Regions from separate parts of the Homo sapiens genome. Here all the other regions are linked to region 2. Evidence: fine-mapped expression QTL. A gene starts in region 2. Each other region holds a variant in brackets. All regions are shown on one strand. Distances are between the middles of the regions. Region 1 overlaps HMCES (5-hydroxymethylcytosine binding, ES cell specific). Region 2 holds the start of GATA2 (GATA binding protein 2). Region 3 has its middle 26 kb from the start of LINC01565.

Region 1 (10,520 bases), 810 kb after region 2:
CCATCCTGGCGAACACTGTGAAACCCCATCTCTACTAAAAATACAAAAAAATGGCCAGGCGCGGTGGCTCACACCTGTAATCCCAGCACTTTGGGAGGCTGAGGCGGGTGGATCATGAGGTCAGGAGATCGAGACCATCCTGGCTAACACGGTGAAACTCTGTCTCTACTAAAAAATACAAAAAATTAGCCAGACGTGGTGGCGGCTGCCTGTAGTCCCAGCTACTTGGGAGGCTGAGGCAGGAGAATGGCGTGAACCCGGGAGGTGGAGCTTGCAATGAGCCGAGATCATGCCATTGAACTCCAGCCTGGGCAACACAGTGAGACTCCATCTCAAAAAAAAAAAATTAGCCGGGCATGGTGGTGGGTGCCTGTAGTCCCAGCTACTCAGGAGGCTGAGGCAGAAGAATGGCATGAACCCGGGGGGTGGAGCTTGCAGTGAGTGGAGATCACGCCACTGCACTCCAGCCTGGGCAACACAGCAAGACTCTGTCTCAAAAAAAAAAAAAAAGAAGAAAAAAAAAAAAATATGCTTTCATGTGATGTAGTTCTCTTTTAGTAATTAACCTTTAAAAATTATATTTCATTTAATCTAAATCACCATTCATTTAAAAATGTACCATTATTTTATACATTACAGTATTTAACATTATTTTATATGTTATGTATATATTTAGGAGACAAATGAACATTTGTCTGTATCTGAATCAACTGTACCACCCAAAAAGTGTGTGCCACACTGCATTGGCCTGGGACATAAAACTGGAAGCTAAACCTAGTATATTTTCCTTACATCCTCTGGGTACCAGGAGTCATGTTTGACAGCTTCTCTGCTTTTCTGACGCATGGCTTCCTTTTGTTCACAATTTTCTTACTGTAAGTCTTTCAGAGGTGGTGAGGCTTGAGATTGCTGTTGATAGACAAGTTTTCAAGATCTATTTTCCCTTCATTCTAGGCTGGGGTGTCATAGAAAGTTTACCAATTTACTAGAGTGGACACTGGAGTACACTAGACCAGTTAGTACTCTTCACTGTCTTTGCCATGAAACTTTATAACATGGCTCTCCAGGTGTTGAATCTGGTGCCCTGTCACCCTGTGCTCAGGGAACACATGGCAGCAATCAGCATGTGAGGCGCAGAGGGAGGGCAAGCTCCCCTTGTGATATTTGAGGTATCAGCTGACTCAAGTCTCTCTCCCTTCTCTCCTTATTCTCATGCTACCTCTCCCAACCATTGTCTTAACTTCCCTGGCCAGGATGCCTGCCATATTAGATGGAGAGGAGGCAGTTTCTAAATGGCTTGACTTTGGTGAAGTCTCAACTCAGGAAGCTCTGAAATTAATCCACCCAACAGAGAACATCACCTTCCATGCAGTCTCTTCTGTGGTGAACAACTCGCGAAACAACACTCCTGAGTGTCTGGCTCCTGTCGACTTGGTGGTCAAAAAGGTAGGGGCCTGTGACTGGTACAGTCCTTTTTGAGCTTTCTGTCTTCTGTCAGTGTTCTCTTTCTTTCAGGATGTGGCCTTTTATGATCAGCCCTTTAATTTGGACCATCAAAAGCTCTCATACTCCTTGTACACAGCAAGGTAGTGTAGAGCAGCAATTCTCAAACCTGGCTGTGACTCAGAGTCCCCAGGAGAAGAACTCTTTCAAAATGTAAATGCTAGACCCTATCTAGACATCCTGAATCAACATTTAGAGCTAGGCTTGGACTTTTGTATAATTAAGAAGCTTCAGGCTGGGCGCAGTGGCTCACGCCTGTAATCCCAGCACTTTGGGAGGCCGAGGCAAGTGGATCACGAGGTCAACAGATCGAGACCATCCTGGCCAATATGGTGAAACCCCGTCTCTACTAAAAATACAAAAATTAGCTGGGTGTGGTGGCCCGTCCCAAGTAGTGATCCCAGCTACTTGGGAGGCTGAGGCAGGAGAATCACTTGAACCTGGGAGGTGGAGGTTGCAGTGAGCCTAGATTGGGCCACTGCACTCCAGCTTGGTGACAGGGCGAGACTGCGTTTCAAAAAAAAGAAGCTTCAGCTGGGTGCAGTGGCTCATGCCTGTAATGCCAGCACTTAGAAGGCAGAGGTGGGAGGGTAGCTTTACCTGAGGAGTTCCAGACCTGCCTGGGCAATATAGTGAGACCCCGTTCTCCACAAAAAGGAAAAAAAAAAAAGCTTCTTTGATGAGTCTGATAAACCACATTTGAGGACTCCTAATCTAGACAGTGATGGTGAAAAAGACAAAGGAGCCCTTGACCATATTGTTTCTCCGTCCCCAACCATGATTTTTGGTGTCTCTTTTCTGTATCTTTGCTTTCCGAACTACAAGTTGCAGGAGCTCCAGTCCTTAGTCTCCTTCAGGAGGATTTGAGAGCATTCCTACCATGAACCTTAACTTCTTAGAATCAGCAAGGATCCAGAGGGTGTATTTTAGGAAGGGAAGGCAAACAAACAGAAGGCCTGCAGTGGGGAGAGAAGTTCCAGAGCAAAAAGCTGGCCCCCACTGACATTTGGGGGTAAGGATTTAGGAGTAGTGATTGTTTTTAGGTGGCATGGAGGGACTTAAAATAGGACATACTTGGAATGTTCCAAGAATAGACATTTTAGAATGCCGTGTTAAGGATGATTGTAAGAACAGCTGTCCCCCTCTCTATTTTTCTTAAAGTTTTTTCCATACCCACAGTGTCATCTTTTTTTCTTTTGTTTTGATTCTGATAAACTCCTGCAACCGTGGCACTTTTTAAAAATTAGATAACTCTAAAACTAATTCTATATACAGGTTGAATATCCCTATCCAAAATGCTTGGGAACAGAAGTGTTTTAGATTTTGAATTTTTTCAAATTTTGGAATATTTGCATTATATACTTCCTAGCCGAATATCCTAAATCTGAAATGTACCAACAAGCATTTCCTTTCAAAGTCATGTAAGCACTTAAAAAGTTTAGGATTTTGGAGCATTTTGGATCTTGGATTTTCAGGGTTAGGATGCTCAACCTGTATTCATTTTGGACTAGACGCTGCCCATTTCTGCCATGGTCTTTTTTTTTTTCCTTTTTCTTTTTTAGAGACAGGGTCATGCTCTGTTGCCCAGGTTAGACTGCAGTGGCATGATCATAGTTCACTGCAGCCTCGAACTCCTGGGCTCAAATGATCCTCCCACCTCAGCCTCCCAGGTAGCTGGGACTACAAGCGTACACCACCATGCCTGGCTCATTTTTTTAAATTTTTTATAGAGATGGGGTCTTCCTATGTTTCCTAGGCTGGTCTCAAACTCCTGGGCTCAAGCGATCTTCCCACCTCAGCCTCCCAAAGTGCTGGGATTACAGGCATGCACCACTGTACCTAGCCCTGCCATGGTGTTTACTCCAAAAGATGTCACATTCTGGAGAGGTGGCATTGTGCTAATTCAGAACCTTTCAGTTCAGGATTGGGGTGTGATGTAAAGGAAGCAGAAGGGAGTAGTGACAGTCAAGAAGAGGTTGTACAGATTGTCTGCACAAAGAGGAAACAATTTAGCCTTATCACAGTGGCTGTTAGAAATTCTTCTGTATCTCTCCAGTCTCGTTTTCCAACACTCCCCCTGGGTCATGCTGAATTACATTCTTTTCCCTGAGAATGCTTCATTCTCTGCACATTTGGAATGCCTTTCAGCTCTCTTCTCTGGCTGGTCCCACACAATCCTCTGTGAAACCTTCTCTAAGATCTACTTTCCTGCCCCTTAGAGCACACTCCTCTCTTTCCACTCTTGACTGGTGGGCCCCAGCTGGCCCTTAGTAACATTTTCCAAGCCTGGGTAAGTACCTAATGCCTCTTCCCCTGTTTCTTCCCTTGGACTTGGCCTTTTCCCAAAAGCTTGAGCTGTATGGTTTGAGCTTTTTCCTCTTTCTTGTAGGAGCTCAGGGCAAGTGGCAGTAGCCAGAGGATGTTGCAGTGGTTGGCCACAAAGTCACCCAAAAAGGAAGACTCAAAAACACCTCAAAAGGAAGAGTCAGATGTTCCCCAGTGGTCCAGTCAGTTCCTGCAGAAGAGTCCACTCCCCACCAAGAGAGGCACTGCAGGACTCCTAGAGCAATGGCTGAAGCGGGAGAAGGAGGAGGAACCTGTGGCCAAGCGTCCTTACAGCCAGTGACACAGGACTTTCAGAGACCAAGGCCAGGGTCTGCTGCACTGCTGTTCTGATAATAGGTTCTTAACATTGTATGTATATGTGTTTGCTTTGGGAGGAGGTGGCACTGTGTTAGTTGACAGTTGTGGGCTCATGTAGTCTTTTTTGCCATGAGTAGGAGCCCCTAGTGGGGCTGGTGGACAGCTTTGGAAGAGGTGTCCTGCTGCTGTTACCAGCCATGTGGGCCCCATAGGGGCACTGCGCCTGCTGCCCTTTCCTGGCAGGGCTGGTGGAGTCTTCCCTCAAAGCATGCCTTACCCAGCTGGGAAGTCTCTGCCCTGATCTGGTACTCCTTGTAGTAAGCTGTTTTCTGCTCAGCCACTGGGCTCTTTCACTTTTTTAGTTCTTAAAAATTTATTTTTAAGTTCTAAAATAAAATAAAAATAAGTTCTTAAAATTTATTTTTTTCCTGAATAAATTGTATTTGGTAAACTTCTGCCTACATTTTGGAAAGTGATGCTGGTGGGGAAAGTTCTAGATCTTACTTGGTTTCTTCTAGAATCAGTCTTCAGGAATGGATTTTGTCACAAATGGGGCATGGGGGCTTTCTGAGGAAATAACTACAAGTCTTGGTGGTGGGCTCCTTATTATGTTTCTTTTTCTTTCATTCTTGATACTTGGAAGTCGTCTGAATCCTTTAGCTTCAAACCAGCCTGAGTTTGAGTGCTTGCCGTAGCAGAAACTATCCTTACCACAGGTGGGAAGGAAAGGACCAGTTTCTAGCAGTGTCGGGCCACTCCTCTTTCGAACATCCCTAAGGGAGGCATTCACAAAAGCTGTCCCAAGCAGCTGGAAGAAAACAGCTTCCGAGATGACCAGGAGGACTGGGCGGCGCCGAGCCCAGAACGCTCCTGGCGCAGCACCGTTGGCGTTGGCCGATTGCTGCTGGTGGGGGGCGGGGGTGCAGGCCCCAGTCTCTATGCAAATCAGGGATCAGAAGATCGGAATTTCCACCAATCAGCGGGAAGCCTCGGCCCTGTAACTGCTAATGGGAGACAGCAGCGCCACGCCACAGGCTTTTCCCCTGGTTTCGGGAGGGGTGGGGAGCCAGGTGGGGCTCCCGCCCAGACCCTTTCCCGAGGTCCGCCCTCTCCGCCTTTTCTCTAAATTCCTCTTTTGAGTGCCCTCCCTTCCGGTTGAGAGGCGGGGGTTGGCCCGTAGTTGTACACTCAGTCACCCTGCACTGTGGAGGCGGGGGCCTCCCTTGTGGACTGATTTGCGTGGGATTTGGTTGTTTTATTAAGAGATTTAAAAAATTCAGATGACTTACTAGTATGACTGTTTTGTCATATTTGCTTCCAGGTTAATAAATGACAAAAATGAAATTCCCTTTGTTTTTCATTATCATCTCCCCACTGTTTCTCATGGTTGCAAATTAGTTTGGTGAGGTCTTTTCATTTTAACATGAAAGAATATAATGCCTGCAGGGGCTTGTTTCCTTTTCATTCAAGTTTTTATACTTTCATATAAACGTGATGTTAGAAGCAAATCCTGGCCGGGCGAGGTGGCTCACTCCTGTAATCCTAGCACTTTGGGAGGCCAAGGCAGGTGGATCACCTGAGGCCAGGAGTTCAGGACCAGCCTGGCCAACATGGTGAAACCCTGTCTCTACTAAAATACAAAAATTAGCCGGGCATGACGTTGGGTGCCTGTAATTCCAGCTACTTGGGAGACTGAGATAAGAGAATCGCTTGAACCCGGGAGACGGTGGTTGTAGTGAGCCAAGATCACGCCACTGCACTCCAGCCTGGGCAGCTGAGTGAGACTCTGTCTCAGAAAAAAAAAAAAAAAAAAGCAAATCCTTATGTCTGAGAGCATACAGTATCATTTTATGAGTTTCAGGTTTACATAAATGGTATCATCTTGGGCATTCTGCAACTTCTTTTTCTCTAAGTCATCAGCTTTACTAGGTATTGCCAAATTGCTCTCCAAATTTTCAC[A/G]TATTTCAGGGGCATAAGAATCTTCATTTTCCCACCTTGCCAACATTTAATCCTGCTTACTAGAGCAATGGAACATCTTCCCGTCTTTTGTTCTTAGTCAAATCTGGACCAAACAGGGTAGCTCCCACCTGCCTGTCTAGGTGTGGCCAGGTGGAGCCAGGCCCTCTACCAATCTCTGGCGCAGGTGGGGGCAGGCCTAGGATGTGGCCATCTGGCCCCTCTGCTTGGCTCCCAGATAGCAGTCCTTCCCACCTCCCTCCCTTTCACCCTCTAGCAGTGACCAGGCTTGGCTCTAAGTCTTAAGGGTATGCTTCCCTGCACTGTAGCCTTAGAGGAGGCAGAGGGTCCCTGGGATTTCTGGTCCTGATGGATACAGGTGCCTGCCCCTCAGTCCTGTCTGCAAGTCCATCTTGATCCATTGTCTCATGCAAGGCTTGTATGCCTAAAGCCAAACCTGCTTTGTATAGAGGTGGAAACAGACCCAGGCAAGCGCATATGGCTTGACATAGGTAAGTTAAGGACAAGTCCACGGGACTCCTGGCTTGGGAGTAGTGTATCAGCTTGGGGAAGTTGGATGAGATCTTGCTTGTAGCCAAGAAGAGTCTGGAGGGTGGGTGTCGTGGGGGGAACCAGAGGCAGTAAGGGAGGTCTCAGACTCCTAGATTCCTACCTGGGCCTGTAGGAGCTCCCCATTCTTACCTGGGCCTCTTTCTTCTCAACCAGAGTGAGGAACAAGTGATGGGAAGGGTTGAACCTCATTCCCTGGGGATAGGAGCTTTGGCTCAGGCTCCTCTGAGTACTGTCTGCCTGAGAGGGTCCTCAGTACATACAGAACTTTTTTTTTTTTCCGAAACAAGGTCTTGCTCTGTCACCCAGGTTGGAGTGCAGTGGCACGATCTTGGCTCACTGCAACCTCTGCCTCCTGGGCTCAAGTGATTCTCCCATCTCAGCCTCCCAAGTAGCTGGGACTACAGACGCATGCCACCACACCCGGCTAATTTTCATATTTTTTGTAGAGATGGGAGTCTCACTATGTTGTCCAGGCTGATCTCAGACTCCTGGGCTCAAGCAATCCTCCCACCTTGGCTTCCCAAAGTGCTGGGATTAAAGGTGTGAACCACCGCACCATCCAAACCCCTGTCCTACCACAGAAAGTTGTAAAAGGCAGAGTCTTTCACAGTCCCTAACCAAGGCAGCCAGAAGAAGGATAGGGGTTGGGAGAGCCAAGAAGAGGCGAGCAAGAAAAGGAGCCTCTGGGAGGGCATATTTATAAGGTGCACTGGGCAAGGCTCTGGGGTCCTAATGACAACCCTCTATGGAGAGGTTGTTACCCAGGTGTAGACACTCAGCACTGGCAGATAGGTCTCTGGCTTTCACTAGTGTATGGCTACCTTTGGTTGAGTCCCCTTCAGGACATCATCATTTGGGGCTTCTTGTCTTGTGAAGTGGCCAGAAGTGTCCTCATAGAAGATCCAGTTGTGAAATCTCAAAGCTGGGGGACTTCAGGCCACATTTAGCTCACACAGTGATTTTGTTTGGCCCATACAATATATATTTATTTTTTAATTCTGGTAAAATGCATGTGACATAAAATCTGCCATCTTAGCCTTTTTTTTTTTTTTTTTTTTTTTTTTTTTTTGAGACAGAGGTCTTGCTCTGCCCCCAAGGCTGGAGTGCAGTGGCAAGATCTCAGCTCACTGCAACCTCCACCTCCCGAGTTCAAGTGATTCTTCTGCCTCAGCCTCCCGAGTAGCTGGGGCTACAGGTGCCCACCACTATGCTCAGATAATTTTTGTATTTTTAGTAGAGATGGGGTTTGTTGGCCCCATGTTGGCCAGGCTGGTCTCAAACTCCTGAGCTCAGGTGATCTGCCCGCCTCGGCCTCCCAAAGTACTGGGATTACAGGCGTGAGCCACTGTGCCTGGCCAAACATTTTAAAATATACATTCAATACTGTTAATTGTATTCACATTGTTGTGCAACCAATCTCTGAACCTTTTTCATCTTGCAAAACTGAAAGTTAAACAACTCCCCATATTTCCCTCCCCTCAGCCCTTGATAACCACCATTCTACTTTCTATCTCTGAATTTGACTACTCTAGATACCTCATTTAAGTGGAATCATGCAGTGTTTGTCTTTTTGTCACTGGCTATTTTCACTCAGCATAATGTTCTCAAGATTCATCCATGTTGTAGCATGGGTCAGAATTTCCTTCCTTTTTAAGGCCAAATAATATTCCATTGTATGGGTAGATCACATATTTAAAAATCTACTTATCTGTCAATGGACCCTTGGGCTGCTTCCACCTCTTGGCTATTGTGAATAGTGCTACTATGAACATGGATGTGCTCTTCTCATCACTGCTTTCCAGTCTTTGGGGCATTTACCCATGAGTGGAATTGCTGGATTGCATAGTAATTATATTTAATTTTTTGAGAAACTGCCATGCTGTTTTCCATAGCGGTTGGACCATTTTACATTCCTTCCAACAGTGCAAAAGTGTTCCAGTTTCCCCACATCCTTGCCAACACTTTCTATGTTCTGTGTTTTTTTTTGTTTGTTTGTTTGCTTGTTTTTTGTTTTTTGAGACAGGGTCTGGCTCTGTTGCCCAGGCTGGAGTGCAGTGGCTCGATCTTGGCTCACTGCAGTCTCCATCTCCTGGGCTCAAGCGATTCTCCCACCTCAGCCTCCTGAGTAGCTGGGATTAAAGGCACACACCACCATGCCCAGCTAATTTTTGTATTTTTTGTAGAGATGGGAGTCTCGTTATATTACCTAGGCTGGTCTTGAACTCCTGGGCTCTAGTGATCCTCCCACCTTGGCCTCCCAAAGTGCTGGGATTATAGGTGTAAGTCACAATGCCCAGCCCTGTTTTTTCATAGTAGCCATTCTAATGGGTATGGGGTGTTTTTTAAGTCCATATTTTAAAATAATGGGAAATTTCAGAAAATAGTTTAGTTTCCACTTTCAAAAATTTTGAGGAGGTGCCTCCGACAACCAGGCCCCATGTAGGACCACTGCTGCACTGAGGTACCCTACCCCATTCCTCCCTGCATGGCCAGACCACTCCCAGCCTCCAGAGAGGGACTTGGAAACTTTCAGGAGGTGCTTCTTCTAACATTATTTGGAAAACTGGGAAGCTCTGAAAACAATCAGTAAGAGCTGGGTAGTCACTGCCCCTCTTCAGGTGGAGTCTGTGTCTTCCAGTTGGCTAGAATGCTCTACCTGGTCTGGAAGCCCTCCTCACCACCCCCCACACCCATTTTTAACTGTGGAATTGGGAGGGCTTTGTAACATGCCAACTTGGCCTGGCTGAACCATATTTTCCAGAACTCCCTGACTAGTATATTTTCCATCAGGGTGGGCCAGGAGGCAGATTCTCATCAGATTTGGAAGGAAGCAACCATTTGGACTGCTGATCTGCTGACTCACCTGATTGGCATGAAGCAGCACCTGGACCTGCAATTGCTGTGCTTTTCCCGGACTCTCCTTCAGTTTTTTCTGACTCCTGGGGCAGGTGTGTGCACGTCTAGCTCTGTGGCTAAGGGTTCCAGCTTCTACCTTCATCAGTGAGGTCAGAGACAAAAAGAATAGACACAGGTTTCAGTCTGTTGTCACGGGTCCTCCCTGTGCTAGTGGGGTTTCAGTATGCTCATGTGCTCATGGTGTTCCCCTCCTGACCACCTGCCTGTGGACTTCAAGCTCCGTCAGTCTTGGAGATACAGCCTTACAGAAACTGCTTAATCAGCCCCTACAATTGTGCAAGCCAGTTCCCTGGTTTTCCTTCTCCATTGAGTTGACATGGGAACCTGAAGCCCTGCTGACTTCTCCGGCCTCATGCCCTGTCACATTGCCCCCACTGCTTTTACCACTACACCTTTCACCATTCCCCAAACCCAGCAGCCTGTGCTACTGTGGGGCTTCCAGTCTGGAATGTCCCTACCAGGAACTTTCTGGTTTATCTGTCCTTCTCCTGCAAGTGACTGAGTCCCATCGCTGCCTCTGCTCCCATTCACCCCTAGCTTGGCACAGTCCAAGAGAAGGGGCCCAATCCAGTAGGTGTTGAATGAATGACTGTGGACTAACCCCTTGGCATATGAGATGTTTTGTTCTCCCATACCTCTGCAAGTATCACCGCCCCCAGCTTGCAAGTGTGAGTAGCCCTAACAGCAGTTGCTGTGGGGAGAGCCAGGACTTCTTTGCCTCCTCATAACTGGTGGAGCTGCTGGAAGAGCTAATATGCCCTGGGCCACATCACCCAAGATCTGATGACTGGGACAGTGAGATAGCAGTACCCCTTGTGCTAAGAGCTCAGACCCTTCCCAACAGTCCCTGTGCTCAGCTCCAAGCCCTGCCCTGGCAGACAGACAGCTTTAGACCAGGTTGGTCTAGGGACATTGACTGAGTGGAGATC
Region 2 (9,036 bases):
GCACGCCTAAGAAGCCCAAGCCAGCCAATCAACGCCGCGCGCCTCCCAGCCTCCGCCTCCCATTGGCTGCGTCCGCAATTCCCGAACCGCTGGACTCCGGGACTGACCCGCGGGCCGGCCCCCCTCAGCCGGCGGGCCCCCTCCCTGCGCGCTCCTGGCGGCCCCTGCTGCCAACGCGCCCCACCACTAAGGGACCCTCACCCCAAGGCCCGACCCCTGCAGCCCCTCTTGCGAACACTCCGGGATCCCTCGATGCTCTGGGCCTCCCTAGCAGTAACTAACCACCAACTGCCCCCTCCCCAGGAGCCCGGGCCGCACACCCTCTGGATGGCCTCTCCCCGAGACCCTAACCCCGCCACGCTCCTTCACCGCTGAACGTGGTCAGTCCGAGCGCAGTTACCTACCCAGACCGTTCCCTCCCCTAGCTCGGGCGCTGTCTGGGTGGACTGGGGGTTGGGATGGTTCGGACGACAGCGGCGGAACAGCAGGAGCCGAGAGGGGCAGAGAGGGGCAGGAACTACAGGGCTCTAGAGGGCACCTGGGCCTCGGACACGCGGCCGCTCAGGGCTGTGCTTGACCCAGTGGAGGTGGCCCGGCCGGTGGCTCCAGAAAGGGGGAGGGGGCACCCCTCCCCGGGCGTGGCCTTCGCAGGCCAACGGGCCCAATTGCCTGGGGCGAGGCCGTGGAGACCCGGACTGGCGCCGGCGCCAGCTGGAGGGAGACGCCCCCGGGCAAGAGGTGGCATTTTTTTTCCTCCGGGGGGGGTCCCCGAGGTGGCCTCTGGTGAGGGGGAGGCGGTGGTCTGAGGTCTCCGTCTTCTAAGTCACCTGGAAGTGCTCCCCACTCACTTCTAGCCCGGAGATCGGCTCTATGGTTCGTGTGGGCCGGGCGCACAAGTCTTCCTCCCTCCCATTGTACAGACTGGGGAGACGGAGGCTCGAAGGGAGCCCCGGGCCGAGGAGGGAGGTCCAGGACAAAGGCATTTTGGGGGACCTAGACAGGTGCCGAGTACTGGGGGGACTCAACAGCGTCCTCCAGCCCTCTTCCCTGTTGGGCCCGAGGCTCCCGGGGTAGATGTCCAGAGGGCCCCCAGGTGGGTCGGGGGCAGGAGGAGGGCTGGGGTCCCGGCCACCCCCGGGAGAGTGGGGGAGGGGCGGCGGGATTGACAGTCGGTAATTGGGTAACTGGAGGCGGCTTCTCCGGCCGGGCGGCCCCGCCACCGCGACGCCGAGCCCCTGACGTCACCCGATTCGCCAGGAAATGAACTTTTTAATAATCCGAGGAGGGAGGAAAGCCCTCGGTCCCCTCGGCTCCGGGGGCGCCCGGCTGGGCCCAGCTCCGCGGGCGCGCCCCCGTCACCCCCTCCCAGGCCAGTTCAGGGCAGCGCCAAGGGGCCGCGGGCTCAGGCTGAGGCCTCCTCCTGCCTAGGCGTCTGGCGTCCGTTTGTCTGTCCGAGGCCTCAGCGCAGGTAAAGCGCGGGGCTGGGGGGCGCAGAGCTCCATTGGGCTGGGAACCAGCGCGTCTCGTGCCCTTGGGGGACCCGCCTGCCCGAGCCGCCTGCTAAGCCTCCCGCTCCCCTCCACGCTGGAGCGCGCGGAGCCCGGTCTGCTCGGAACTCCACTCTGCGGGAGCGGAGGCCGGCGCCAGCCCGGGAAGCCGCGCAGGGGGCGGGAGGCCGAGCGCGAGGCCCTTGGCGCCGGGCCTCCGCGGCCAGGCCGGGCAGGTGAGCAGTCTCCGTGCCTCCCGGTTGGCGTTCCCCTCAACGCGTGCGGTCCCGCCGGGGCCCACTGTCTCTCCGTCCGTCTGTCTCTCAACTTTTCCCATCCTTTAGCTTACGATTCTTCATCAACTCGTAAAATGAGATCGCCGCGGAGCTCGAGCCTATTTGGCGTCTCCGGAGACTAGCAAGACCCTCTGAAAGACACCGCGTCCCCAGGGATAATCCCCCGTGTCCGGCAAAGCTGCCCCGCTCGAGCGCGAACCCTGGGACCCAGCGCGGGAGGCAGACCAGCAGCTGGCCGCTGGGCTGTGAACGCCAGGACCGAGCGGAAGCTTCCCGCCCGGCCGCGATCGGTGCCGCGGCTCTCAGGGAAGTGGCTACGCGCGTCCCTCGGGAAAGCAGGTAATTCGCCTTTTTCTCCCACCGGCGCGGTAAAAATTACCCTCCCCCTCCCCGTTCCGTGTGTATTCCCAGTTTCAGCGCAGCGAGCTCGGCGTCTAACCCCTCCGCGGCAGGGTCCCGGCCACTGCGGTAGTGGAGGTGGCCAGCCTGGCTGAGTCCCCTGCCCAAACGTCAGCCCTGTGCTGCCGCCTGCCTGACGCAGAGCGGAGCGAGGGAGGGGATTTAATTACCCCGCTCGGCAGCTCAGAAAATCGCCGCACAGAGGGGCTTAGCAGGACGGTTAAGGAGTGCTTGAGCAGGGGCCTCGGGAGACCCGAACCAGCCTCCTTGCCCGCAATCCGGTGTAGAGGAAAAAAAGGAAACAGGAGTTCTGCCAGGTCCTTTCAGGCCTTGGGGTTGCCTTCCTCGACAACGCAGGCAGGAGCCGGCTTGACCGAAGCCTCCACCTCGGTTGCAGGTCCTGCGTAGGATGCGGGACTGCTGCATTCTCTGGCGGAAACGAACCCGCCTGGGAGAGAGAAATGCGACGCCAAGTAGCAGGGCGCCCAGCTGGCCAATAAAGAGGGACCCGCGCTCGACAATGTCTGTGTGTGCCAGGCAGACCGAGGGACACCAACCGGGCCCCTCCCCATTAGGCCGAAGACATGGTCCTCCCACCTTGGGCCCCAAACAAACTCCCGGGGAGGGTCAACGCAGCCCCCAGAATCTGCTGGGGTCTTGAGGCGCTGTTCCAGGCCTGGTGAGAGCAGATTTACTCCAATTTATGGGCTGGAACTTTGGGGTCCCCAAAACACCTTTAGAGGGACGCGTTCCCTTTTTCAGTACTTTGTTCGTTCGGGAGTATAGTTGGAAATGCTGGCGCTGCCTTTGATCACATTAAGAAGCTGTCACTTTCCTTACTTGGGAACAAGATTTCTCTGAGGACTGGAGAAGGTCAGCCAGGAAGCAGAATTTTCGAAGGACCCTTTTGGCCCGAGAACTCACAGCGGCGATCGCCACCATTTGACCTGGGTGCTTCTGCCTGGGAGCTGGGGAGGTAGCAGATCTGGTGCCCGGTTCTAGAGTGCTTCTCAGGCCTCTACTAAGCCGCGGGTGCCAGGTGGGGACACAGAGATGCCCAGGTCTCCCCGGCCGTCCAGCCCCCCCCCCCCTCTGAGCCCTTTGTTTAAAGTTAGCTCATCCGAGGCGGCCCCTTTGGGACCATAAGTTTGCCCTCCCTTTGTAACCTAATTCTTCTCGCCTTTTCCTTATGGGCAGCTAATTGGCCCGCGGTGTGGGGCTGGGGGTGGGGTGTCAAGGAAACCCATTTGCTAAGGGACTACCTTCCATAGAGAAATTTAATTCGCAACCCAGCGGCCTCCCAGCCCCACACTGGCAATAAACCTTGAGGGGTACGGGGAGGAAGTGGGGTGCCTTAGCAGATGGGTTCAGAAGTTCCCTTAAAGCCGGGGCATTAGATCTCAGGCCAGCAGCCATCCCTCCGGGGGGGTTCCCAAGGGGGGGACTACTGCTATAACGGCCCCTCCTGCTCCTTGAGGTTCAATTCCAGCCCCTTAAAGCAGAAGGCTCCCTCCCTCGGCATCAGTGCAGGCTCTCCCACCTCATTACTGTTCTGTGTCTTTGGGAATCGTAGAGTCTGTGGCCCCCACGTCCTAGGTGTCTCGGCACCCTGGACCCAGGCGCCTCCGAGATTCTATATCGCTTCTGACCCCTACCTTCAAGCCTGGCAGGCTCCCCGCGGAACCCTGCTGAGACCCGGAGACAATCGGGCCGTGCTTCTCCCTCCTCCACGAACAGCCACGGTTTATTTGGAGCGGCCGGGGCCGGCGGCCTGACAACTGGTAAATCCGTTTCGTTAGGCACAATTTGTCTGCAATTTGTCAGCCCGGCTGGGAAACGCTCCCCAGACGCCTCGGCTGCCGCACGGGCCCTACCTGGTTCTCGAATCCTGCCTGCTCATAAACGAATCCTAGCACGGGGTGCCTGCGTAGACCTGGAGCTCACCACCAGATGTTCCCGACCTCGGGAGAGGAGGCTTTTTCCAAAACAACGAATTTCCTTCCTTGTTTTCCGGTAAAGGAGCGTTCGCCACACACGGGGTCCCTGAACGCGGGGCCTTTCCCCTCGTGGTTGGAGCAACGCGGAGTTCAAGCCTGGCCGCCACAGAATAATTTTAAATGCCCCGTTTTCAGACAGATCCAGAACGCCGTCTACGCCTACCGGCGGCAGATCTTCAAGCCCGCGGCGGCCCCATTCTTATTGAAATCCCACTAAACGGATTCCGACTCCGGCTTGGGGCGGGGGGAGACTTCCAGACCCGGCGCTCTCCCCCACACGCACCCCAGTCACACAGGATAAAGGGCTGCGGGGCGCAGCGCGCGGGGGCGCAAGCAGGAGCGAGCTGGGTTAAGCCGCGAAAAGCCGGCGCACGGGACCAGCCGGCAGGTGCAGCCGCCGCTCGGCGGCCCGGCTCGGACGCATCCGCCGCGGTGGCCTGGGGATTGGGGGCGGCCGAGACAAAGGCCCCAGTTCGGGGGCCGGGAGGCGGGGGTGCTTTGCGAGGCTCTGGGAATGCCAGGGTCTCGTGGCCTGTGGCTCCGAGAAATGGGAAGACAAGAGGCCCGAGGCGGGCCTGCTGTGCCCAGGTAACCAAATACTCCCTCTGGTTAAAGTCCCTATAACCAGGGTTTCCGGTCTCTGGCAGGGCCAAGGCGAGCCCCAAAGGTAGGGGCCACAGGGCAAACGGACCAAGCGATTCGGGTGCCAGGCGGGCCGGGCCGGGGGCGGGAAGGGCCGGGCCCAGGGAAGGTGGAAGTGGAAGAAACTCACCGAGCGAGGCGCGGTGGGCGGCGCCCCCGGGCGGACGGGGCCTGGAGTAGAGCTGGGAGCAGGGCGAGGTGCGCGGCAGGCGGGCTCGCGGGACCTGGGCGCGGGGTGGCGGCGCTCACCAGCAGAGCCTGGGCGGCACGCCGAGCGGCCGCATGGTGTTCAGCGGACCGCTTTTGTCCGCCTGGTGGGCGACGGGGCCCTGCTAGGATGGATGTGGCGGCAGGCAATAGACAGACTTGAGCAGCGAGTCCCGGGGCGACGCTGGCCTCGCTACCTTCCTGGCGCTCACGCTGCCTCTCTCTCCCCCACCGGCCGCAACGCGGCTTTTTATTTCGACATCACTTTGCGGGGGGGCAGGGGGTGGCGACGGGGGCGGGAGCGCCGCAGGGGGCAGGAGGGTACCCGGGGCTCTGCACCCGGCCTACCAGGTCCAGCCGCCTGGCCGGCCAAGGGCCGCTAGGCACTCAGGGCGCGCACACCCTGTGCATCCACACTCCAGGCCGCTCCCACCCTCTCCGGAGCGCACACGCGCGCCCCTGACCTCAGGGATGCTTGCTCAGAAAGCTTGGGACACGTCTTTACTGAGACTCTCCCCGGGGACCCTCAGGAGCTGTGAGCACACGCACTCACTGATAATGGTACACAGACGCCCGCTCCTCTGTCTTCAACCCACTTCCAGGAGTGCTCACACGGACACGCACACATCCCTGCACATGTGCACACAGCTGTGGCCGCGAGGACATCCTCAGACAGACGGCCTGGGTCACACCGACACACATGGCCATACAATCAGATGCAACTCGGCACTCGGGCTCACACTCAGGACGCCCTCACTGCCAGGCTTGTTTAGCTAAGTGCAGGCGCAGCCCCTCTCCCTGTCCCACCCCCCCTCCAGTTCCTAACGCTGGGGGACCCCCTGAGCACTTTAGAAGTCCACTGTCTGGTGTCCCCCTGGCCCATCTCCTTGGGGCAGACTCTCACAATGGGGGAAGCAAGGAAGTGTGCAGAGGGCTTGTTCACAGAAGTGGGAGTCAGGAGGGGGGGAGAAAGTGAGTGTGGGAGTCCTCATCCCCAGAAGGCCCCTGGGTTTGTGGGCAAAGACAGTCCAGTCCTTGTGCTGCCAAAGTTCTTACTAAGGGATTCAACCAGTCAGCGTCCCCCCACCCCCACCCCTGATTCCCATTCCAGCAGATCAGGGAGAGTGAAAGTGGCCTGGGGACCTTGAGCCCAGAGGGAAAGTGCTTGGGCTTGGAAGGACTGGGAAATCTGTGCTCCCGTGCCCAGGTGTGCCCCAGAGGAGTGTTTCTGTCCCCTGGTCTTTGTGACCCCTGCTGTCCATAGGTCTTTCTCCAAATCTGGTGGTGACTATTGCATTGTGTGTGTGTTCTATGCATGTGGCTCAGAGTCTATGTCCTGTGTGCCCAGGTGTGTCTGTGTGCACTTAGGAGCACACAGGAGTGTCTGCAAAACTGGGTGTATGAGTATGTTCATTTCTTCTTGTGGGTTCCTGAGAGTTTGTGTATTGGGCAGTAGGTCACAGTGTGGCTATTTCATGACCCTGGAATTTGGCACAAGAGAGTGTGTCTGTGGAAATGGTTGTGCGTCCCTTTGGCTCTGTGTCTGTGGGGTCATCATGTCAGAGACTCATGTAATGAGGGGTGGGGATTTCCAGGTGTTTGCCCATGTGTCTGTAGCAGTGTGTGGCATGTCTATGAATGGGTGTGTTTTGGAGTGTGTGTTTGCGTGTGTATGTGCATGTATCTAGGCATGTGTTACTGTGTGTATTTTTGTTGTTGTTGTTGTTTTGTTTTGTTTTGTTTCTTGAGACAGGGTCTTGATCTGTTACCCAGACTGAAGTGCAGCGGTTCAATCAGCGCTTACTGCAGCCTCAACCTCCCAGACTCAAGCCATCCTCCCACCTCAGCCTCCTGAGTATCTGGGACCACAGGCATGTGCCACCGTGCCTGGCTAATTATTTTTATTTTTATTTTTGTGGAAACACAGTCTCACTATGTTGCCCAGACTGGTCCCAAACTCCTGGACTAAAGCAATCCTCCCACCTCGGCCTCCCAAAGTCCTGGGATTATAGGCGTGAGCTACTGCGCCTAGCCTGTGTGTGTCTTTAATAGTTTGTACCTGGGTATCTGCATGTGTCCTTGAACTGGTGTATGTGTAGGTGTGTGTGTGTGGTGTGTTGCATGTGTCTGGATATCCATGTATAATTCTCTTTATTAATTGATGGCTGTTGGGGCGTGTGTTTGTGTTTGTGTATTTGAACATGCATTTGGCTATGTGCATGTCCATCTGTCTTTAACAGCATAGGTATCAGTGTATATCATTGTATCTTTGAACTGATGGTGGGGAGGAGGAGATGTATCCGAGTGTGTCTGCATGTCTACGTACAGCTCCATGTATGAATTGATGTGTGTTGCGGTGGGTGTTTGTGTCTGCGTATCTGGGTTGTGGGCAACTGTGTATATGACTACATCTTTGAAATGCATGTTTCTGTGGCCAGCAGTGCCCTGTTCTGTGGACTGTAGAAAAGTGTGTCCTGGGTGACACGCGGGGTGTGCATCCTGCAGGATCACACACCATCCAGACCTTCCTTAACCAGCAGGGCAGGCCGCCAGTGGAGCTCTAGGGTACCATTTGCTCGGGCACTTTCTGTCTGTCTGTGGGAGGGGAGATGAGCTGATAAGGCTTATCTGCTGTCGCCAGCGCCATGCTGAATAACTGCTCTAATGAGGTGTCCTCATTGGGACCACCCGATCCCAAGGCCCTGGGCCTCACTGGGGAGGGGCATGGGCGAGCTTGTCTGAAGCACAGGAGCAGGGCCTGGGTGCCTACAGGGCCTTTTCTACTTCTGTCTTGTTTCCTTGGAAAGGGGGTTCCAGGCCTTGCACCTCCCCACCCCACCTGCCTCCTGCCTACTGGGCGGAGCTGGGCTGGCCAGGCCAGAGCTGGCTGGAGCCTTCCAGTCTCTGGTCTGTGGCCAGGTTCACAGCCTTGAGAGGGCAGGAGGTATGAGGCCTGGAGATGTGGGGCCCTCAGGGTGGGGTGGATGAAGAGAAATGGAGATTCAGTGACAGAAAGATCCAGAGAGACAAGGAGTGGGGAAAGAGATGGGAGGCCCAAAGACAGATTTTAAAAAAACAATGAGGAAGAGGCACTGGTGGGGACAGGCCTGGAGCTTGGGGACACTTGGAGACAGACAGAAATAAACAACTAAAAAGTGGCAGAAAGGGTCAGAAAGATGGGAATAAAAGCAAAGAAGGTGATAACCACAGAGACATGGACAGAGACAGGAGAGAGATAAGAGAGGACAGAGAGATAAGACAAAAATAGAGAGATTCAAAGAGAGGCGCAAAGAGCCAATGCGAGAAGAGGGACGTGAGAAGGGCCCCAGAGAGAAGAGTGGGGACGCAAAGGAAAGATGGGCAGGATGGGATGGACAGACTGAGATGGAAAGGCCGACAGGGCTTAGCCGCCAAGCTCGAAGGAAGCGCGGGAGGCCGGGCGCCGGGCGAGGATGGGCTGGGCATGAGCTGCGGGCCGCGGGCAGGGCGGGACACCAAGGCGCGGGCGGTGGTGGCGGGCAGGGGGCTCCGCGCGGGGCTGCGCCGCTGTCCGGGGTAATTTTTCATCTCGGCCGGCTAATCTTTGTTCCCGGCGAAGATAATGAATAGCCAGTCGTTATCTGCCCGGCTCCCGGAGGCTGCCCGAGAATGGGGTTGTACAGGGCTGGGAATTGTTTCCAAAGTGCCGCGGAATAAATGGTGTTCCTTATCTCTGCCTTCCAGATTATCGGAGCCCTTTCAGAGAGCGCACAACAAATGCGCCCGCCATCGAATGCATCATTTACCACCGCAGATCCGAGCGCTGATGGGCAGGCAGATAGCCCTCTGCTGGGGGCACGCGGGCTCCCCGTGCCCGTACCACTCGCCTGCCTGCCGGGGCCACTGAGTGTGCGCCCCGGTGTGCCCGGCGTGTTTGGATGGACACGTGGGTGTGCCAGTGCATGGGCTAACGCCGATGCAACTGTGCGGGTGTGTCAAACAAGTGTACCACAAAAAAGTGCAGGTGTG
Region 3 (10,520 bases), 110 kb after region 2:
AAACCCTGTCTCTACAAAAAATACAAAAATTAGCCAGTGTGGTGGTGTGTACCTGTGGTCCTAGCTACTTGGGATGCTGAGGTGGGAGGATTGCTTAAGCCTGGGAGGTGGAGGTTGCAGCGAGCCAAGATTGTGCCACTGCACTCCAGCCTGGGTGACAGAGTGAGACCTTGTCTAAAAAAAAAAAAAAATGCCAGGCACAGTAGCTCATGTCTGGAATCCTAGGTGGGCAGATCATCTGAGATTGGGAGTTCAAGACCAGCCTGGCCAACAAGGTGAAACCCCATCTCTACTAAAAATACAAAAATTAGCCAGCCATGGTGGTGGGTGCCTGTAGTCCCAGCTACTCAGGAGGCTGAGGCAGGAGAATAGCTTGAGTCCAGCAGGCAGAGGTTGCGGTGAGCCAAGATCACGCCACTGCACTCTAGCCTGGGTGACAGAGTGAAACTCCGTCAAGAGAAAGAGAGAGAGACAGAGAGAGAGAGAAAGAGGAAAGAAAGAAAGAAAGAAAGAAAGAAAGAAAGAAAGAAAGAAAGAAAGAAAGAAAGAAAGAAAGAAAGAAAGGAAGGAAGGAAGGAAGGAAGGAAGGAAGGAAGGAAGGAAGGAAGGAAGGAAGGAAGGAAGGAAGGAGAGAAGGAAGGAAGGAAGGAGAGAAGGAAGGAAGGAAGGAAAGAAGGAAGGAAGGAAGGAAGGAAGGAAGGAAGGAAGGAAGGAAGGAAAAGGAAAGCTGAAGTCTAACACCTAATCCCTACATACAAATGGCTTCACTGAGACCAGAAATCAGAGGAAGCACTGAGGAGCAGAGGCAGCGGTCCTGCTTGCAGGGTCTTAGGTCTATTGTCCCATTACTCCTGACAAGGTAGTTGCTATGAGTCCCCCCACTCCAAAGATGGAAAAGCTGAGGCACACAGAGGGTAAGTCATCTGCCAAAGGTCATTGAGCCAGGAGGTTGGCCAGGGAGATCTCTGCTCACCGAGTTGGGACTGAGGAGTGGCAAGGGGGAGAGTAGTGTTTAGGGAGACCCACTGCGTGCCTGCCACCAGGCTAAGTGCCCTCTGCACTAAGCTACTCTCATCCTCGAGCAATATTAAGAGGCTGGCATCGTGCACCCAATTTTAGAGATGAAGAAGCAGGGCCTCCGGGACCAGAAGCCTCAGCTCACACAGGATTGAGTGCAGAGCTAAGGCTAGAGCCTGTCTGCCTGGCTGCAGGGCCTAACCCCTGGAGAGAGAAGACAACATCACCCTGCTGGTGCTGTCCTCTCAGCCCCCTCCATGCCCTGGGCACTGGGGCCGGATGCCCAGCAGGGGGTGGTGGCCTTGGCCCTGGGCAGACATTCTAGAAAGCCAGCAGTTCATTAGGTCCCCTGCTCCAAAACACAAGGGCCATGCTTGAGACTCATGGGTGAGGGCAGGGGTCTGCTGCTTCTTCCAACCCCCACAACCAAGATGGGCAGGGTGGACACTGGTGTTTCTCAGGCTCCTGTGAGTGCCCAGCCCTTGCCATACCAACCGGTGACAGATGTTGCTGTCCCAGCTGCTTCTCCACGCCTGGTGCAGCCCTCCAGCGAGCTTTGTCAGGCCTACATGGTGATTCAAACACATCTGAGTCAACATATAAATATCAAAGGATTGCACTTTTTAAAATCCAAATTTCACATTTCTCTAGGAAAAAAGTAGATCTGCCAGCCCTAGGCCCATACTCTCACAGATCCCCAGTCAGCTAGTGCTGAGCAGCAGCTACCTCTTTGCGTGAAACATGTGAGCATCAGTTTGCCCCAGTCCCCGCCACCTGCAGCCGAACTACTGTTTTCTTTCTTTTCTGGAGGCAGAGTCTTGCTCTTTCACCCAGGCTGGAATGCAGCGGTGCGATCTCAGCTCACTTTAACCTCCGCCTCCCGGGTTCAAGCGATTCTTCTGCCTCAGCCTCCCAAGTAGCTGGGATCACAGGCACGTGCCACCACGCCCAGCTAATTTTTTGTACTTTAGAAGAGATGGAGTTTCACCATGTTGCCCAGGCTGGCCTCGAACTTCTGATCTCAGGCCTCCCAAAGTACTAGGATTACAGGTGTGAGCCACCACACCCAACCCTACTGTTTTCATTTTTAAGGGCCCTTATGCTGTTGGTCTGCTTGTGGTGGAGGCATAGTCCTTGGTACCCATGTCTCCATCAAAAATTGGAAAATAGAAAATAAATTGAAGGGCCTCAAGTCTTATTCTGTGGACATGCAGAATGTTCACGTGCAGTCCATCTGCAGACGCCTGTCCTGTTCACTATGTGCAGCACCGCTGGGCCAAAGCTCCCTCTCAATGTGGTAACGGCTGCGCACTGCTCCTCCCCAGGGGGGTAATGTTCAGCCAGGTATTTAAGAATGGCACCTCCGCAGTCCACCCCCCCAACACAGCAGGGGCCCCAGGAGGCTTGGCGTCTGCGATCTCAGGTCTCAGGGCCCTCAGCCCTGCTCCCCAGGCCGTGCACACAGGGCTGCCTGGGTTTGAGGGTGCTCTTCCGTGGGCTCCATGCTTGTGGCGTGCATCTGCCCCAAGGCAGGCCGAGCCTGGGGCTGGGTCCTCTCTACCAAGCCCCTGGCACTTCCCGAAAGGGCTGCAGATAATGCAGCGAAGATGGCTGTCAGCGATAAGGACGATGATGACACCGACAAACGGCACTGCCCGGAAGCTTCCCGAAAGTGATCTGAGATGCATCTTCTGATCTGTGAACCTCCACAAATGAGAGTCCCCTACTTTCAGTTTGGGCCTCACATAATCGCTGCCAGAAACTATTAAAAATATATTTTATAAACTATCCCCCTTGCCCTGTTCATTTATTTCTGGAAATCTAGTCTTAGAAAGTCATTAAAAAAAAAAAACAGATAAAGGGAGGGGAAGAAAAAAGAAAAAGTTATGTTCATGAAAATGTCCACTGGGCAAGGACACACCCAAATGATCATGGTGGGAATGCGGTTTTGTGGGGAAATGTTTTGTTTGTTCATTTTGGTTTTGTTATTTTTAAAACTTTCTGCAATGTTATATCACTTCTCAGAATAAATAGATACAGGCCGGGAGCAGTGACTCACGCCTGTAATCCCAACATTTTGGGAAGTCAAGGCAGGAGGATCACTTGAGTCCAGGAGTTCAAGACCAGCCTGGGCAACATAGTGAGACCCCCATCTCTAAAAAAAACTTAGCTGGGTGTGGTGGCACACACCTGTAGTCCCAGCTACTGGAGCAGAGAGGTGGGGGCTGAGATGGGAGGATTACTTGAGCCCAGGAGGTTGAGGCTGCAGTGAGCTGTTATCATGCCACTGCACTCCAGCTTGGGCAACAGAGCGAGATTCTAACTCAGAAAATAAAATAATAAATAAATGCAAGCCAGGTGTGATGGTTCACGCCTGTAATCCCAGCACTTTGGGAGGCCAAGGTGGGTGGATCACCTGAGGTCAGGAGTTGGAGACCAGCCTGGCCAACATAGTGAAACCGCATCTCTACTAAAAATACAAAAAAAAAAAAAAAAATTAGGTGGGCACGGTAGTGGGCGCCTGTAATCCCAGCTACTAGGGAGGCTGAGGCAGGAGAATCATTTTGAGGCAGAGGTTGCAGTGAGCCGAGATCGCGCCACTGCACTCCAGTCTGGGCAACGAGAGCAAAACTCCATCTAAATAAATAAATAAATAAATAAATGCAACTTTAAAACTTCCAGGCCACCTGTGGTCCCGCCAGGTGAAGCTGGTGGTTAACAGCAAAGACAGGCTTCCTGGGCTCCTGTCCCCACTCCTGCAGTCCCCTGCCAGTGTCTGTGGCAAGGTCCTAACCTCTTTTTGGCTCAGTTTCCTTTTTTTTTTTTTTTGAGACAGAGTCTCACTCTATCACCCAGGCTGGAGTGCAGTGGTGCAATCTCAGCTCACTGCAACCTCTGCTTCCAGGGTTCAAGCGATCCTCCTGCCTTAGCCTCCCAAATAGCTGGGATTACAGGTGCCCACCACCACATTCAGCTAATTTTTTTTGTATTCTTAGTAGAGATGGGGTTTCACCATGTTGGCCAGGTTGGTCTTGAACTCCTGACCTCAGATGATCTGACCACCTCAGCCTCCTAAAGTGCTGGGATCACAGGTGTGAGCCACCATGCCAGGCCAGTTTCCTTATTTTTGAAATGGGCACAATAACAGTTCCCACCGCTTCGGGCCATTGCTTGGATGAAATGAGTTAGTTTGTGCAGAAGTGCTTAGAACAGCACCCAGCTCACAAGTCCTTCTGAAGCCCCAGCCACCCTCCTCTACCTGCTGCCCCCTGCCAGGGCCTGGGCCCCTCCCTCCCTGAGTCCCTTACCTCCTCGGCTTCCCCAGGCCTGCCCTAGAGCCACCCTCTTTCTCAGCCAGTCCTCAACTTTATGACCTTTATCTCTGGAACGCTGATGTGAAGCTCCGATTTGAGGTTAAACTTAATTCATTTTATGCAGAAGAAAACCTTAATTCATTTTATGTTTTATGCTGACATATTTCTCAGTAGAACACAGCCATCATGTCTTCATACACCTTTATATACTCCAGGGCACAAGTGAAAAAATAAAGTTTTTCTGTATAGTCAAAACACATTATCATCGCTGACAAAATAATTCATCAATTCTGTCCAATAGTTGGTTCACAGGCAAATTTAGAGGCAACATTTAAAAACTGTAATGTCCTTCTTTTTTTTTTTTTTGAGACAGGGTCTCATTCTGTCACCCCGACTGGAGTGAGCCCAGTGGCATGATCTCAGCTCACCACAACCTCTGCCTCCCAGGCTCAAGCAATTCTCCCGCCTCAGCCTCCTCAGTAGCTGGGATTACAGACGCGCACCACTGCCACCCGGCTAATTTTTGTATTTTTAGTAGAGATGGGGTTTCACCATGTTGGCCAGGCTGGTCTCGAACTTCTGACCTCAGATGATCCACCCACCTCAGCCTCCCAAAGTGCTGAGATTACAGGCGTGAGCCACCGCACCCAGCCCGTTTTTTGTTTTTTTGTTTTTTTGGTTTTTTTGAGAC[T/G]GAGTCTCGCTCTGTCGCCCAGGCTGGAGTGCAGTGGCGCGATCTCGGCTCACTGCAAGCTCCGCCTCCTAGGTTCATGCCATTCTCCTGCCTCAGCCTCCCAAGTAGCTGGGACTACAGGTGCCTACCACCACGCCCAGCTAATTTTTTGTATTTTTAGTAGAGACAGGGTTTCACCATGTTAGCCAGATGGTCTCAATCTCCTGACCTCGTGATCTGCCCACCTCGGCCTCCCAAAGTGCTTTTTTTTTTTTTTTTTTTGAGACGAAGTTTCACTCTTGTCACCCAGGCTGTAGTGCAATGGTGCGATCTCGGCTCACTACAACTTCCAACTCCCAGGTTCAAGCGATTCTCCTGCCTCAGCCTCCTGAGTAGCTGGAACTACAGGCACCTGCCACCACGCCCAGCTAAATTTTTTTTTTTTTTTTGAGACGGAGTTTCACTCTTGTCACCCAGGCTGGAATGCAATGGCGCGATCTCAACTCACCGCAACCTCTGCCTCCCAGGTTCAAGCGATTCTCCTGCCTCAGCCTCCCAAGTAGCTGGGATTACAGGCACAAGCCATCATGCCTGGTTGATTTTTGTATAGACGGGGTTTCGCCATGCTGCCCAGGCCAGTCTCAAACTCCTGAGCTCAAGCAATCTGCCCACACCTCGGCCTCCCAAAGTGCTGGGACTGTGGATGTGAGCTCCCCTGCCCGGCCAAAAGTTTAAAAATAAAGAAAAGAATGAGGCAGAAAAACATAACCAATATACGCAATCTCCAAAATAACAGGTGAAGCCCAGGTACCACAGGCTGAATGGCTGTGCACTCTGGTCCTGTCTATGGAAGAATTCACACAGCCTTGGATCTCAGCCCACAGGTGCGCAGGACCCCAGGAAAGCTTGCAAAATGGCTGTGGGGGCAGGGGGAGCATCTCATTAAAGGGACAAGAAAAAGCCATCATCGGGGTGGAGAATGATTTAAATGGCCTTGGGGAATTGCCGCAAGCTCTGTATCCCTCATAGCCTTACCACAAGGACAGGAGTCCTGGGTTTCTCAGGCCTCCTGATTTCAAAAGTTCCCTCCCCAACTCTTGTTGATACCCTCAGCCAGCTGGGGGTCCCAAAGTGGGCTTGAAAAATGTTTAGACGAGGGCCTTGTCCTCCCCTACCCTCTGCCCAAGAGGGACAGCGCTGTTATCCCAGATTCAGGCCCTGGAGCCCATCCCCACTGGCTGGGCAGTCTGAGTTTGGCTTGGGCCAGCAGAGCCCCCGGGTGCTCCAGCCCAACTTTGGCCATGCTGCCTAAGAGCGTCTTGCTAAACAGACGGCCTGGAGTCCTAGACCCTTGTGGGAACTGGAGCCTGTGCCAGCCTGGGGGCCCGGATCTCCTTCCTCCCAGTGCGGGGCCTAATCACTCATGGTCAGCAGGAGGCCTGCAGAGGGAGAGACGAGATTGGCCCTCCAATCCCTGCCTCTGGGAAAGGTGGCTGGGGCCAGGTTCTGGAGAAAGGACCTGGAGCTTCCAGGAAAGTTTAGGAAGCAGAGGGGGGACCCCTTGCCCTGCCAATTCAGACCACTCTCACGAGTTGGGGCCAGAATAATTAAGCGGCTTCCTCTGGCGCCTACTCTGAGGGGTCGGTAATGATGTCCAGCACTGTGATGAGGAGGATTCTGAGGCACCGTCCATGATTGAAGGAAGGAGCTCCTTGGAGATGTTGCCACCTTCGCCACAGTAGAGGACGGGTAGTGTGCAGATGTCTGCCACCCTGGAGGTAGGGTCTCTCCTTCCCCCAAGTTCTATGCATGATCTCAAGTATAGAGGGGTGGGGAGGTGTTATCAGGAGAATGATTCATAGTATTGCTCTCATTACGGTACAGCTCCCAGTCATGGAGCACCCACTTTCAGCCAGGCACTTCATAGATGCTGCCCTGTAGTAATCCTGAAATGCTAAGAGAATCGGCAAGGGCACGCATCTTGCCGATCTCTGAACATTTGCTTAATGGGGGCTGGGCATCATGATCCCATTTTACAGCTGGAACAACTGAGACTCCAAGCACCTGCCAAGGCCCCACGCTGGTAGGAGTGGGCCCCAAACCTGGGTGCCCTCTCGAAGGTACCCTCAAAGCCAGGGCCTGGCCTCCCGCTGCCTCTCCTAAGCCCCCACTCCAGGCCTGAGCTCCCCTGCTGATGGGGGGCAGGGGACACGCCATCTGTCTGCAGAGGCAGGGGTGCCACTGGGGGGGACATGCCACCCCCACAGGCAGTGGACGGGGCCTCCCTGCATCCGTTACTTGCCCCCTGCCCAGACTCTGCCCACCGCACAGCAGTGATAGATAGTTTGTGAAATACCCTGAGCTTGCGGTTGACCAGAATTCTGAAATAATTCCATTGAGACCGGAATTCATGCAATGTTCTGTATCCTGATGTGGTAAAGCAGGCTGCCCGCGGGGGCGCAAGGGGATGTGAAGGCCTGGGGATGGTGAGGCAGCCTCCAGGCCCTGCAGCAGGGGCTTCTGCCACCCCCCCTCGCCCACGGGCTCCGGAAGGCCCATCTGACAGGAGCAGGGCCCTGATAAGCACCACCTGACCAGGAGGCCCCCGGCAGAGAGATTAATGCACAAATTGTCAACAACCTCCCCATGCTGTACCCCCGCAGAGGAGCAGGGCGGGGGGGCACTGGGAAAGGAAGGACAGAGGAGGCCTCACCCGGAGAGAGGCAAAAGGACAGCTCAGCCCGGCCTTGCCCTGCGGCCTCAGCCTGGCTGCCCCACCTGCGCCAGCCGGGCTCTGGACACCTGGAGGGGGAAGAGGCCAAGGTGTGAAGGCAGGCTTGTATCATGGGCCAGTCTGATGCCCAGGCAGGTCCTGGCTGTGCAGGAGGGTGGGAGGGAGCTGCTGCCTGCTGAGCCTCCTCAGCCTGGAAGCTCCCCAAAGCCAGAGCTGACTCCAAACCTCCTGGCCCAGAACCCTGCGCTCCAGTCCCTGGCCCTGCCAGCCCCCAAGGTGGCTTCCCTGGAGGAAGACATGTGTTTCTCCTTGGCGAGCACTTCTCTCAGTGCTGCAGAGTGTCCCTGTGTTTCTGCAGCCAGGCAGGACTGGACTTGGCAGAGCACAGCAGGACTGCAGGAGGAGGCTGGGGGTTGCTCTGGGGTCATCATATTCAGGACCACACACGGTCGACAGGCTCAGGCCAGTGAAGTTCCCTCTCCTCATGGGACAACCAGAAGCTCAGGGGCAGCCTGGTGGGTTTTCTATAAAGCAAAATGCAGCCATTGAAAGGGCTGTCCTGGGTTCTGCCATTAGGAACTTCCTATTTCTTAGGTGGGGGAAACTTTTCTCTAAAGCAATGAGGGTACCAGCAAATCAGAGACATAAACTGAGGGCCACTGGCATACGGAGCTTGCTGCATGGGTTACCAGGTTTTTATTTTCTTTAAGTCCATTCTTTCAGGCTGTATTTCCAGCTTTGCTTTGGAAGCTCTGGCCACTCTGAGCCCACATTCCTTCGTGGCCCTATGCCTGGAGCTGAGCAGGGGCCACCCTGAAACAGGCCCACCCACTTCCCACCCCTGCTCCTCTCTGCAGTGAACAGAACAGTGAGGATCCAGAGTGTGAACCCCATGGACCGGGAGGAGTATGTGTCCCACAGGACAGCACTGGGGTTCACGCTTCTGCAGAGTCCCCAGCCTGGGGTCCGTCTCAATCATTCTCCCACCTCTGCTGGGAAACTCAGCTGCTGCAGTCACTTGTCATGGACTATTTTCATGCAGGTCCATCTTCCTCATTAGGTTGCCAAGGACATGGGACACAGGCTTAGGGGCCCCGGGGTTCGGGGACAAGGAGTGAGGTGAGGCTGCACAGACCTGAGTGCTCAGTTGAACCCTCTGAACCTTTTCAAGAGATCTGGAAAATTCTACTGTTCTTTTTTTTTTTTTTAAGAGGCGGTTTTGCTCTGTTGCCCAGGCTAGAGTGCAGTGGTACAAACATAGCTCACTGTAACCTCGACCTCCTGGGCTCAAGCAATTGCACCTTGGCCTCACAAATAGCTGGAACTACAGGCATATACCGCATGCCTGGCTAATTATTAAAATTTTTTGTAGAGATGAGGTCTCCCTCTGTTGGCCAGGCTGAACTCCTGGGCTCAAGCGATCCTCCCACCTCGGCCTCCCAAAGGTCTGGGATTATAGGCATGAACCTCTGTGCCAGATGGGAAAATTATATTTTTTAAGTAATATCTCTCAGGTTTTAAATGTTGAAAATGAATTCATCTTTCAGTAATGATAATAATATTCTATAAGGAAAAGAAAATACATCTGCCAGCTAGGAGATGGCAGCCTCCAATTAGGAGCAAGGAGGTTCACCAGATCCCATGCTATCTGGTCAGTTGGTGTCAGGAGGGAATAAAACTATCCCATGCAAAATTTTCTGATCATCTTTTCCAGCCCGGCCCAGGACTGATTCCAGCACCTACCTAAGTCAGATCCTAGCCAGTCCTCAGGGAACTAGGTATGGAGCAGTGGACAGAGAAGGATAATTAAAGCAATATAGTGTGACATCCTGTAAATGAATGGAGACTTTCCAGAGGAATTCACAAGAAATTGCTAACACTGTGTTTCTCTGGAAGAGAAGCTGGTAGGAAGCCGGAGATTCTGCTTGCCTCTGTATACCCTTCTGATCTGTCTGGATCCTTAGTATGAGCATGTGTTAACTCTTACAATTGGGATTTTTTTTTTTTTTTTTTTGAGATAAGGGCTCACTCTGTCACTCAGGCTGGAGTGCAGTGGTGTGATCTCAGCTCACTGCAACCTCAACCTCCTAGGCTCAAGTAATCCTCCCACTTCAGTCCCCTGAGTAGCTGAGACTACAAGTACTCGACTCCGTGCCCAGCTAATTTTTACATTTTTAGTACAGATGGGGTTTCATCATGTTCGGCAGGCTGGCCTCGAACTCCTGAGCTTGAGCGATCTGCCCACCTCAGCTTCCCAAAGTGCTCGGATTACAGGCATGAGCCACCACGCCTGGCCTTTTACAATTTTTAAAATCTCTCTTTGTTGTTACAAACAGGGTCTTGCTACGTCACCCAGGCTTGCCTCAGACTCCTGAGCTAGAGCGATCCTCCCTCCTCAGCCTCCCAAGTAGCTGGGACTATAGGCCCATACCACTTTTACAATTTTTAAAACACAGAAACATTTTGTAATGAATCTGGATATAAACAGATGTGGTGATACCATCACAACATTGTAACCCCAGTGCACAGAGACCCCAGCAAGGCAGTAACCATGTCTATGAGAGGGAGAAGGAAAGTAGCACTTAAGCTTTCCCAGGAGTAACCCTGGGGGTGGGTTTTAGAGAATGAATAGGAGTTTTTCAGCGGGGCGCGGGGGCTCACACCTGTAATCCCAGCACTTTGGGAGGCCGAGGCAGGCAGATCACGAGGTCAGGAGATCGAGACCATCCTGGCTAACACGGTGAAACCCCGTCTCTACTAAAAACACAAAAAATTAGCCGGGCGT

Evidence for each region. PIP is the estimated chance that this variant, and not a neighbour inherited with it, causes the effect. A credible set is the group of variants that fine-mapping cannot tell apart.
Region 1: its variant is the best candidate, but not a certain one, in a credible set for the expression of GATA2 in lung (TOPMed, PIP 0.56).
Region 3: its variant is the best candidate, but not a certain one, in a credible set for the expression of GATA2 in whole blood (INTERVAL, PIP 0.56).

Annotation. Positions count from the first base shown.
Region 1 is chr3:129,300,697-129,311,216 of GRCh38, forward strand. It overlaps HMCES (5-hydroxymethylcytosine binding, ES cell specific), which reads left to right. Exons shown (of 7, transcript NM_020187.3): 6 at 1,254-1,446; 7 at 3,893-5,490. The coding sequence ends at 4,129. Among named protein-coding and RNA genes, the nearest start is that of H1-10-AS1, 10 kb to the right of the region's middle. RefSeq lists enhancers at 4,862-5,446, 9,567-9,626 and a cis regulatory region at 4,926-5,426. The variant A/G (reference allele first, on the strand shown) is at 6,106.
Region 2 is chr3:128,487,948-128,496,983 of GRCh38, forward strand. It overlaps GATA2 (GATA binding protein 2), which reads right to left and starts at 5,254. Exons shown (of 6, transcript NM_032638.5): 1 at 4,952-5,254. It overlaps GATA2-AS1 (GATA2 antisense RNA 1), which reads left to right and starts at 1,256. Exons shown (of 3, transcript NR_125398.1): 1 at 1,256-1,723; 2 at 1,832-2,122. RefSeq lists a cis regulatory region at 1-1,505, silencers at 1-79, 4,964-5,053 and enhancers at 760-1,570, 1,571-2,382, 2,383-3,192.
Region 3 is chr3:128,596,480-128,606,999 of GRCh38, forward strand. No RefSeq gene overlaps it. Among named protein-coding and RNA genes, the nearest start is that of LINC01565, 26 kb to the left of the region's middle. RefSeq lists an enhancer at 6,329-6,828. The variant T/G (reference allele first, on the strand shown) is at 5,023.